2 linked regions of the Homo sapiens genome follow. The protein of the gene in region 1 purifies or fractionates together with the protein of each later gene. This does not show direct contact. Each region holds a gene or a part of one and is shown in the gene's direction. Other genes may lie near its edges.

Region 1 (4,788 bases):
GGTTTCTCTCTCTCAATCTGTGCACTGAGCAAGCAGCTCTCTCAAAAACCCTTGAATACACATTGATATATATTCCAAAGAGATAGGTTTTGAGTTATTTGAACTCCAGTTATTTTTGGACAAAATTCATTTGAAAAGAGAAAATAATAACAAATGATTATACAAGTAAGAGGACTAAACATTCATTTATGAGAAATAAAGTGGAATGCAGTAATTGTGTTTCCTCTAAATAGCTGCTTTTGTAATATTTAGAGGGTGATGTGCAGCATGCTACTGGCCTGCTTTAAAGAATGCATGTGAAATACAAGCTATAATGCAAGAAACGTATGCTATGGATAATGAGGATGTGAGCTATTTTTCATTAAAGGCAGAGAGTTACAGTTATGTCTGTGTGTGTGTCCTTGTGTGTGTGTGTGCCTCTCCGTGTGTGTGCTTGTGTGTGTCTTTCTGTCCCTCTGTGTGTGTTTCTGTCCCTGTGTGTGTGTGTGCTGGCTGATTTGGAGATGAAGACAGAGGCAAGGATCCTTTCTTTCTACTCTAGGAAAGGTTTATGCTCCTTGAAAGAGATACTGTTTATTTTCTTGCTATACCTTTTGTGAAGTATTGAGACTCTTGGACTGTGCCCTGTCACTCAGTAGGCTGAAGTACAAATGCTAATTATCGCCAGACTGCAGCATTGTGATTTGCATTCCAAATCAGCTTGCAGATTCCCATTATAAATTGCTATCCTCTTGTTTCTTATCTAAAATTTGTTCCTCCCTTACATCACTCTTCTCATTCCCTAACACTGACCTTTAAAGAAATTCCCTTTCAAGAGATTCTCATTGGAAACCAGCAGCTTTCGTGGGCTATAATCATAACAATAAATAACAAAGACATCAATAGGGTTTTTCCTTCCAGTGGTTTTCTCCCTTTTACTTAAGAGTCATATGGCACTAAGTAAAATAATTACTTAAAACATGTATCTCTCAGGCTTAGAGCTTTATACTCACTCCTTTGACAGCCACGCTTCTATTTCTTTTTAAATCTCAAAGGTGTGGGATTACAAGTCCTGTCTTAGTAATAAACTTTTGCAGATAAACCCTGAGATGGTATAACTGCATCCTTTCTTGGCACCTTAAATCAAATTAACTAAATACTTAGTGAGGAGAGAAAAGGAAAACACAGTTTTTTTGCAACGTATCTGACTGGGTGAGAAGCCACTGCTGCAGCATAAAGAACCGACGGGAATCTGGGCTTTCCCACTCTGGAATGAAGGGGGGAATTACGGGTTGGTGGTCGGCTTCATGTTAGGAGGACACCCCTCCATCTGTTCACAGCTCAGCCTGTTTCCAATTTAAAGCCCAGATTTCAATACAAACCTCAATTTCTTTTCCCCATTTTAAATGCAAAGCAAGACTTGTGAATCATAGTGTCTCTGCTCCTGGGATTCAGACCAAATTTCCCCCCAAAATTCTCAGGCTATTTGTTTGAATACCTGCTTACAGTGGTACACAATGGGCAGCTTTGAGAAGAAAAATTGATAATCTTCACGGAAGAGTAATTTGAATGAAATTACACTTGACAGCCTGTCTCCAAGCAAACAAGAGGAACGAGGGAGCCTGAGCTAAGCTCTGAGGACTTGCCCAAGCCACTGCTGTTGGAGCTTCCCAGGAAAAAAAAAAAAAAAAAAAAAAAAAAAAAAAAAAAAAAACCCCCAGTTTTTCCAACATCTAATTGAGCTTTTGATTAATTCCGTGTACCAGATTCTACTGAAGAAAGGTAGCCATGGAAGAGAATATGGAAGAGGGACAGACACAAAAAGGTACTGTGCTAAAAGCGTTTATTTGTAACTAAGTAATTATTTTGCAGTTTCCTTGTTTGCTTTAGACACTTGCCAGTAAGGCTAATGAATGTTTCTCTCTTGGAAGGCATTTTGTTCCTTCCTCTCCTTTAGTCTGTTCCTCACTTGCAGTAATGTCTGGCACGAATGTTGTCATTATTTGCAAATCTTTCAGATATAAGTACCGAAATGCAGAGTCGAGTATTAGTGAGAAGAGCATTGCGGTATTGTAGTGAACTATTCCTTAGACCAGTCTTTGTTAACCTTCATTTATTTCGTGATTTCACACTTGCCGAGCTGGGTCAAGGGATCCCTAGTGTGAGCCACAAATACAATATTTGGAGTTAGTTAAAAATTTGGTGATGGAACCATTATCCATATCTTTGCATGGACATCTGATAGAACAAAGACCAAGACCATTAATTATCTTTTGATTGGTGCACCTTTTTAAAACAATCTTTAAAAAATAAAAACTAAAAACGAGGATGCAATATAGGTTTAAGCAGATGGAGCAAAAGTTCATAAATTTTCAGGGTGTATGGAAGCGTTAAGATTTTCCTTTCTATATAGTTGACTGTAATCAACTTCTGAGTAATAATGTTAAAGGAAATTTTTTTATGTGTTTTTAAAGCTTGTCTAGGTATATCTGGCTGTATGAGTTAAAGTGAAATTTCCATTTTTGAAGGTTGAAATGGTCAAATATTGGTAATTTGGAATGATTCAATCAACTCGAGAATTGTTTTAACGTGTCAAATGGTAGCTTCAGAGGGAGCTAGCTTTCACCCCAGATAGGCAGCGTTTCTCTCGTCTGCTGTCGGGCTTATGTAATGTCAGAGAAAATGGTCTCATTTTCTTAGTACTGAAGCAGTAACACAGGTAATACTACATAAAGGTAATATTCAAGAGTAGTGTTGAAAAAGATTCAGCTGTCAAAGTTAATTTCAAATGTATATAAAGGCACTTATCGTAAAAAACTGTATTTTATGTGATAAAATATATAGGGTGGAAGCACAGTATAGTTACCATATTTTTAGCCATTTAGCTATGCTGGGTTTCTTCTCTTAATGTACACACACATACTTTGAGGCATATATGGTGCATACACACACACACACACACGTAATAAAGGACCATCGATATTAAATACATGAAGGTTTTATATAAGCAAGAGATAATAGATAAGTTGATTTCCCAATTTTAGTCCTTAGTACCCTTATTCATGATAATCTGTAATAGAAACACAAAAATCTACATTAATAGCATGTGATCTATTTTTAAATTAAAAAACCTCAGCTCCCTTTATTATATGCACAAATAGCCCAAGTTTTCATCAGTGATTGTAAATGGGACATTTTAATGGTAATTTCTGTTCTTACAAGACATCTCAGTGGACTATTTTAACTTAGAATAAATTACCTTATGACAACATCTTTTTTGTAATACCTAATAATGATACTTATTGGCCGATCAATTTGCTTAAGGAAAGATAAACAGCATTTTAAATAGAGGAATGATATTCATTACACTAAATAAAACCTTGAGTTAAATCATGGATTGTGGTAACAGGTTGAATGTGTCTGAGCAAGCCTTGGTAGATGCGGGAACCAAGAAAAATGATGTAATTAGTTGTGATGTTTTTTTCTCAGGTAACACTGAAAAGCTTTCTTTTATGGGGGTGGAGGTGGCTATGCCGTGAGGGGAAGATTTCTGTCACAGTGGGTTTTTCCTCATTAATATATGCACCAGCAGCAGTGGTGGAAAGCAGTTTTAAATCAGAAAAAACGTTTAGTGGTCTATCAGTTTGTAAATGTATATGAATACAATATTTATGATTTAGGTTTTTTTCTTAATTGAGAAAAGAAGATGTAATTTTCTTCACTCTTGATCTTCTGTTCCTCTCAATTACGCCTATGACACCTTTTCTATATAAGTTTGTTGTTAGAAAGTTACATTTGAATCGAAATGCTCTGTCGATATGTGCGTGGGTTGTAACTGTGAAATTACTGGAGGAGCAATTTGACAAGCAGACAAAATCGTTACAGATTTTTCAAGAGTTTAGGTGGAGAGACTTAATGATCTGTCTAAAGAAAAGCAGCATTTTGTGTTAGTTCTTATCCTGTTTTTCTTAAACTGCATAGGATTTTCTTAAACAATAATTCAAATAGCACAGAGTTTTCTTCCATTTGCAAGAAGTAAGTGGCTTTTCAGTCTTTTCTTAAAATTTAGACCTTGTCTTTCCTGTTACATGTCACCAAGACTTAAAATTCACATCAGTGTTTACTCATATGACCTTGCAAATTCAACTAGAAGGTAAAATTCAGTGGATTCATTAATTAATTGCAATTTGCTATGTTCGAAAATATATATACTTGGTGTTTAAGCATTTAAAAAGATCATCCGTCTTAAGAAATATATTTTTCTTCATAGTGAGAGCCCACTCCCCTCTCAAGCTTTAAAAGACAATTGAGAATAGTCCTAACTTTTATCCTAATTTAAGCATATGTGTTCAGTCAGAGAGAGAGGATAATTTAACAGTATGGGTGACTTCACCCACCAGCCATTGTGTTCAATGAGCCCATGCCTGATGTGAAACTGAAATGGGGATCATTAATCTGTTGCTCCAGCAATTTCTGACACCCTCCCCAAAAGTGAGTATCTCATTATGCTGAGGGGAATCTAGTATTTTAAGAAACATATTTTTTGGTAAAACATGGCCTCTAAATGAAAGCCACTTACTTCATCTTGTGTGCAGCCAAAACAATGATATTCTAGTATAGAAAAAAAAAAAGGAAAAAAAGAAAAGAGTGTTTTGAATTTGGTCTTTACTATGGCCATAATAAACCTAGCATCATCTGTCACCAAAATCAAGAGCCATTGTCACAAAATCATGGCAACAAGGACCCCAGTTACTACAGAGGGGTTGAGCAAAGTGAATAAAGATATTTTGATGAAGATTTAACAGGTAG
Region 2 (4,799 bases), on another chromosome or scaffold:
TGGGACAACAGGAATCTGTACTGGAACCAGTATGTCTAGTTTTGTGACTTTGTTCCACAGCCAAGGAGCAAAAAGGGAGGAAGCTCACCATGTGGTTTGCTCAAGATGGGGCTCATCATATTGAGAGCCTTTGGCACCAAAGGCACGGCTGAGCAGCCTTTGGCATATATATCAATTATTGATCCTTAAGGTCACTGTTGTCGGCTTCCTACTCCTCCCCATTGTATATTTTTACTTCCTTTTTTACTTTCTCCTAGTCTCCAGTTCTTTTTTTCCTTGCACTTTTCCTTAGGTTTTACAGTAACCACAGTGTGACAGACATACCCTAAGCTGACCCCCAATGATTCCTGCCTCCTGGTATTTACGCCTTGTGTGATTCCCTTTTCTTGAGTGCAGATGGCTCCTGTGCTTTGCTTTTAACCATAGGAGATGGCAATGATGATGGGATGCCACTCTGTCACATATATAGTAAGTTATATAAAACTCTATCATCATAGTCTGGAGCTAGAGACCCTCATTGTCAGTTTCAAGAAACTAAGTGGCTATGTAGGAGAAACCTGCATGGCAAGGAAATGTGATAATCTCTAGGAACTGCAGGTGGCTTTTGGATCCTGAGAGAGGCCTCCAGCAGACACCCAGCAAAAATCCCAGGCCCTCCTCAGTTATACAGTCACCCAGCAAAAATCCCAGGCCCTCTTCAGTTAAACAGTCGCAAGGAAGTTAATTCTGCCAATAACCCAAATGGGCTTGCAAGTGGATTCTTCCCTGGCTGAGTCTCCAGATGAGAATGCAGCCTGATTGCAGCCTTGTGAGACTAAGCAGAGGACCCAGCTAAGCTGTTCTCTGGCTCCTGACCTGGAACCTGTTAGATAACGTTTGTTTTTTGTTTTTTTTGAGACGGAGTCTTGCTCTGTCACCAGGCCGGGTGCAATGGCACAATCTCGGCTCACTGCAACCTCCACCTCCTGGGTTCAAGCAATTCTCCTGCCTCAGCCTCCCGAGTAGCTGGGACTATAGATGCCGTGCCACCATGCCCAGCTAATTTTTTATTTTTAGTAGAGACGGGGTTTCACCATATTGGCCAGGATGGTCTCTCTCGACCTTGTGATCCACCCACCTCGGCCTCCCAAAGTGCTGGGATTACAGGCGTGAGACACCGCGCCCGGCCGATAATGTTTGTTTTAAGCCTTAAATTTGTGGTAACTTGTTACACAGCAGTAGAAAATGAATACTCCCAGAATTCCTGAAAAAACACTGGGGCCCTCAGGCATGACCCCTCTACATTATGTGCTACCTAGGAAAATCTGGGCCTGGGCCCAGGACACAGAACTTGGTGAACGAGGCCAGAGGGTGTGCCACACACCTCCAGTGGGCACTCTGGACTTCAAGGTAGAAGAGGTCCTGGCTTTCAAAGCAAATCGTGTGCCCCACCTCCCCGCGCCTGCCTGCCTCTGCAAATGCCTGTCAGTTCGACCCTCAGAGATGGGCGAAGCCTGGGGAATTACAGACTGCCAGAAGTAGATCACGAAGTCCACCACCTGAATCTCGGCGTTTGGCACCGTGCCTGGTACACAGTGGACGCCCAACAAACGGCTTGCTTGCAGAACAGAAAGAGCCCTCGAGTGCGCGTCTGCTGGCCCCCTCTTTGTGCAGAAGGGAAAAGGGAGACTGGGAGGGCCGGGGACCTGCGGGGCCCCGCCGCGGGTCAGAGCTGGGCCTCCGGCCAAGCGCCATCCCGGGCCCAGGCGGAGGGGGCGCTGCGGCGGGAGGCCGCGGCGGGCGGTGGCGGCGGGCCGGGGGCGGAGCGATGGCGGGGCCGCCCCAGTGAGTGAGCGAGCGAGCGCCGCGCGCGCCGCCGCTGCCACCTCCGCTGCTCGGCCCGGTCCCGGAGTGGCCCGGCCGGCCCGCGGGGCGCGGAGCCGAGGCCCGCGGCTGGCTGCATGAAGGACTGCGAGTACCAGCAGATCAGCCCCGGGGCCGCCCCGCTGCCCGCCTCCCCGGGGGCGCGCCGTCCCGGCCCCGCCGCGTCCCCGACTCCGGGCCCCGGGCCCGCGCCGCCCGCCGCCCCCGCCCCGCCGCGCTGGAGCAGCAGCGGCAGCGGCAGCGGCAGCGGGAGCGGGAGCCTCGGCCGCCGCCCACGGCGCAAGTGGGAGGTGTTCCCGGGTCGCAATCGCTTCTACTGCGGCGGCCGCCTCATGCTGGCCGGCCACGGCGGCGTCTTCGCGCTCACGCTGCTGCTCATCCTCACCACCACCGGCCTCTTCTTCGTCTTTGAGTGAGTTCCGCTGCCTCGGCGCCCCCTCCCAGCCCCCTGCCGCGCACCCCACCTTCCCAATCCCTGCTGGGCACTCCGTGCCTTCCCCTTCGCCTCCCTGGTCCTCATCCTCCCCGCCCCTTTGGGATCCTCCTCGGGCCTCTTGTCTGCCCCCCTGGCCCCTGCGCACCCCCATCCCCGCCAGATGCCCCATCCTCCTTGGTCCATTTGGGTACCCCATCCGCGCTGGTGCCCTCCACCCTCCCAGCCCCTCCATTCTCCCTGACCCCACCCTGGCACCTGTCTGCCTGCCACTGCCAGGAACACCAGCCTCCATGCCCCTCCACGGCCCCCATCCTCGCTGCCCTCTCAGAACCTGCCCCAGGGCTTCTTGAACAGGCCCCTCCTGCTCACCCATCCCTGGACCATCTCTTGCCAACCCCCCAAGTTCTTTCTGACCCTTGTATCCCTTCCTGACCACTTCTAGATCTTGTGTGTCCTTTGGCTGTGCACACCCACCATAAACATCCTAGTCATCCTCGCTGCCCTCTCCGGGTCCCTCCAGGGTCCCCTCCTTTTCTCTAGTCTCAGACACCAACCCCGCTTTTGCTTCCCCTCAGCCACGCACACCCTAGGCCCCAAGGCATCTTTTCTCAAAATCTTTGGGCCTCTCGGGCCCCCTTTCCTTCTCCAGAACCTTCCTTAGGTTCTCCAGAGCTTCCTGTCCTTCCCTCAGATCCCGCCCGCCTCCACCCAGCCGGCTCCCAGGCCCCTGGCCCCCCTGCTGACCACCTGGCTTTCTTTCCCTGCTCAACATTCTGGAACGTCCCTCTGGCCTGTTCCACATCAGCAACAGCTGCGGTGCCTTGTTGTTTTTCAGGAAAGACTTCGGAGTGCTTTCGTGTGACAGGTCATATTTGCCCCCCTAGGTTTTTGTCCTCTTCATATCCCCCGGTGACCCAGGATTGGCCCACACATAATCTCCATTTTATGGATGGAGGGTCATATATTTGTATTAGAAGTTTTCCACCCACCTCTGAGCCACCTGCACTGTGATTCCTTGCACACACACTCACACGCCCACCCACCCACCCTTGCTTCATAAGCCCTGCTGTCCCCTCCCAACTCCCCATCCTTTGTGGTTGTTCCTCTTAATTATACAGTGTAGTTAAGAACTCTAACAGACCTGGTTCAAATCCCAGCTCCACCACCCACTAATTGCGTGACCTCAGGGCAGTCACTTCACCCCCTCAGTGCCCCAGTTTCCTCATCAGTAAAATGGGATTTATAATAGTACCCACCCCGTAAGGTTGTCCTGAGGGTGGCATGAGGTCACACATGCAAGCTTTTAGCCCAGTAACAAGCACACTATGTTGGCTGCTATTAGTACTTGTGTTGTCTTTATCAAAAAACACTTCCCAAGGGCATGTGGCCATGGTAAGGCTATCATAGAGACACCCGCCCCCAGGTACCCTTTCTAGCTGCCAGATCATGTATCTGCAACTTTGGGTTTCCCCTTGAAGCAAGGTGAAGACTTCCTATAAATTAGCTTCTCCCTTTACCCTTTAACCACACACTCTGCCCTTTTTTTTGAGTAGGGTGGATAAAAAGTTCAGGGATGATTTACAAGCAGAAGCTCTGGGGGGCCCAGAGCTCAGCTCTGGGCTGAGTTTCAGATCCACTTCCCTGGGCTGGCCACATGAGTGTTTTGGAAATGCCTTTTCTAGTATCCCCTGGGCTGCCCTCTCAGTCCCCACACCCAGGGCTGCAGCCGAGGCAGGAGGAAGCAGTACTTGCCGTGGTTGACCCACATGACCCTGCAGTGTGATATCTGGCCTAACTTCTGAACTAGAAGCAGGACCTTCTCTGGGTTGACCGGGTATCTTCACTGGTGACTGTTTTGTCCCCAGCGAGGGAGAAAGCAAGGACTTCTGGGTTTGGGGAGAGCTCGTGAACCATGTTGCAGTTTGTCCCCGCTTGTCCTCATTGGGGGCTGGTAGATTGGCAGAAGAGTTTGGGTTTGGGCCGAGAGCTCACCTGGGTCTGGACTGGATGCTCCCCATTGCTCTGGGAAAAGGTAAGGTGCTCTCTAAGCCTTTCCTGCTATGAATGGCTTTGCTTCTTTGTTTGGCTTGGTGGATTGTTGCACAGGCCTCCAGCAGGGCTCCCAACTTCTGCCTTACTTCTCGCCCCCACACAACAGCCAGAGTGCCCTTTTGATTCTAACTCAGGCCTGAATCCTCCCTGGCCTCTGTCCCCTGCTGTCTTCTGTCCCCGTCTTCCCTCCAGGCATGTCATCCTCCGTGCACACTCCTACCTCTGGGCCAGTGCTTGGAATCCCCTTCCTGCAGGTGGCCTCATGGCTCACTCTCTCACATTAGGCCTCCCCTGTCCATCCGCACAGCATAGCAAACCACTCCCCTCCTGCACCTCTCTTCTCCCCTCATTTATCGCTCTCTGAAGCATTTGCCACCACCTGACATATTATGGTATACTTGTTAGTTTCTGGTCTTTGCCCATGAGAGCAGGACATTCTCCTCTGTTG

Evidence for each region. The genes of interacting proteins can lie anywhere in the genome.
Region 2: the proteins of GPM6A (region 1) and ZDHHC18 purify together in Homo sapiens (affinity purification with mass spectrometry; 2 studies listed by BioGRID and IntAct, with this or other methods). This does not show direct contact.

Annotation. Positions count from the first base shown.
Region 1 is NC_000004.12:175,809,207-175,813,994, reverse strand, and holds the start of GPM6A (neuronal membrane glycoprotein M6-a), read left to right. Parts: upstream 1-1,730; 5' UTR 1,731-1,767; coding exon 1,768-1,804; intron 1,805-1,805; exon of another isoform or gene 1,806-2,135; intron 2,136-4,788. UniProt on the Homo sapiens protein: Involved in neuronal differentiation, including differentiation and migration of neuronal stem cells. Plays a role in neuronal plasticity and is involved in neurite and filopodia outgrowth, filopodia motility and probably synapse formation.
Region 2 is NC_000001.11:26,824,865-26,829,663, forward strand, and holds the start of ZDHHC18 (palmitoyltransferase ZDHHC18), read left to right. Parts: upstream 1-1,823; 5' UTR 1,824-1,940; coding exon 1,941-2,275; intron 2,276-4,799. UniProt on the Homo sapiens protein: Palmitoyltransferase that catalyzes the addition of palmitate onto various protein substrates, such as CGAS, HRAS and LCK. Acts as a negative regulator of the cGAS-STING pathway be mediating palmitoylation and inactivation of CGAS.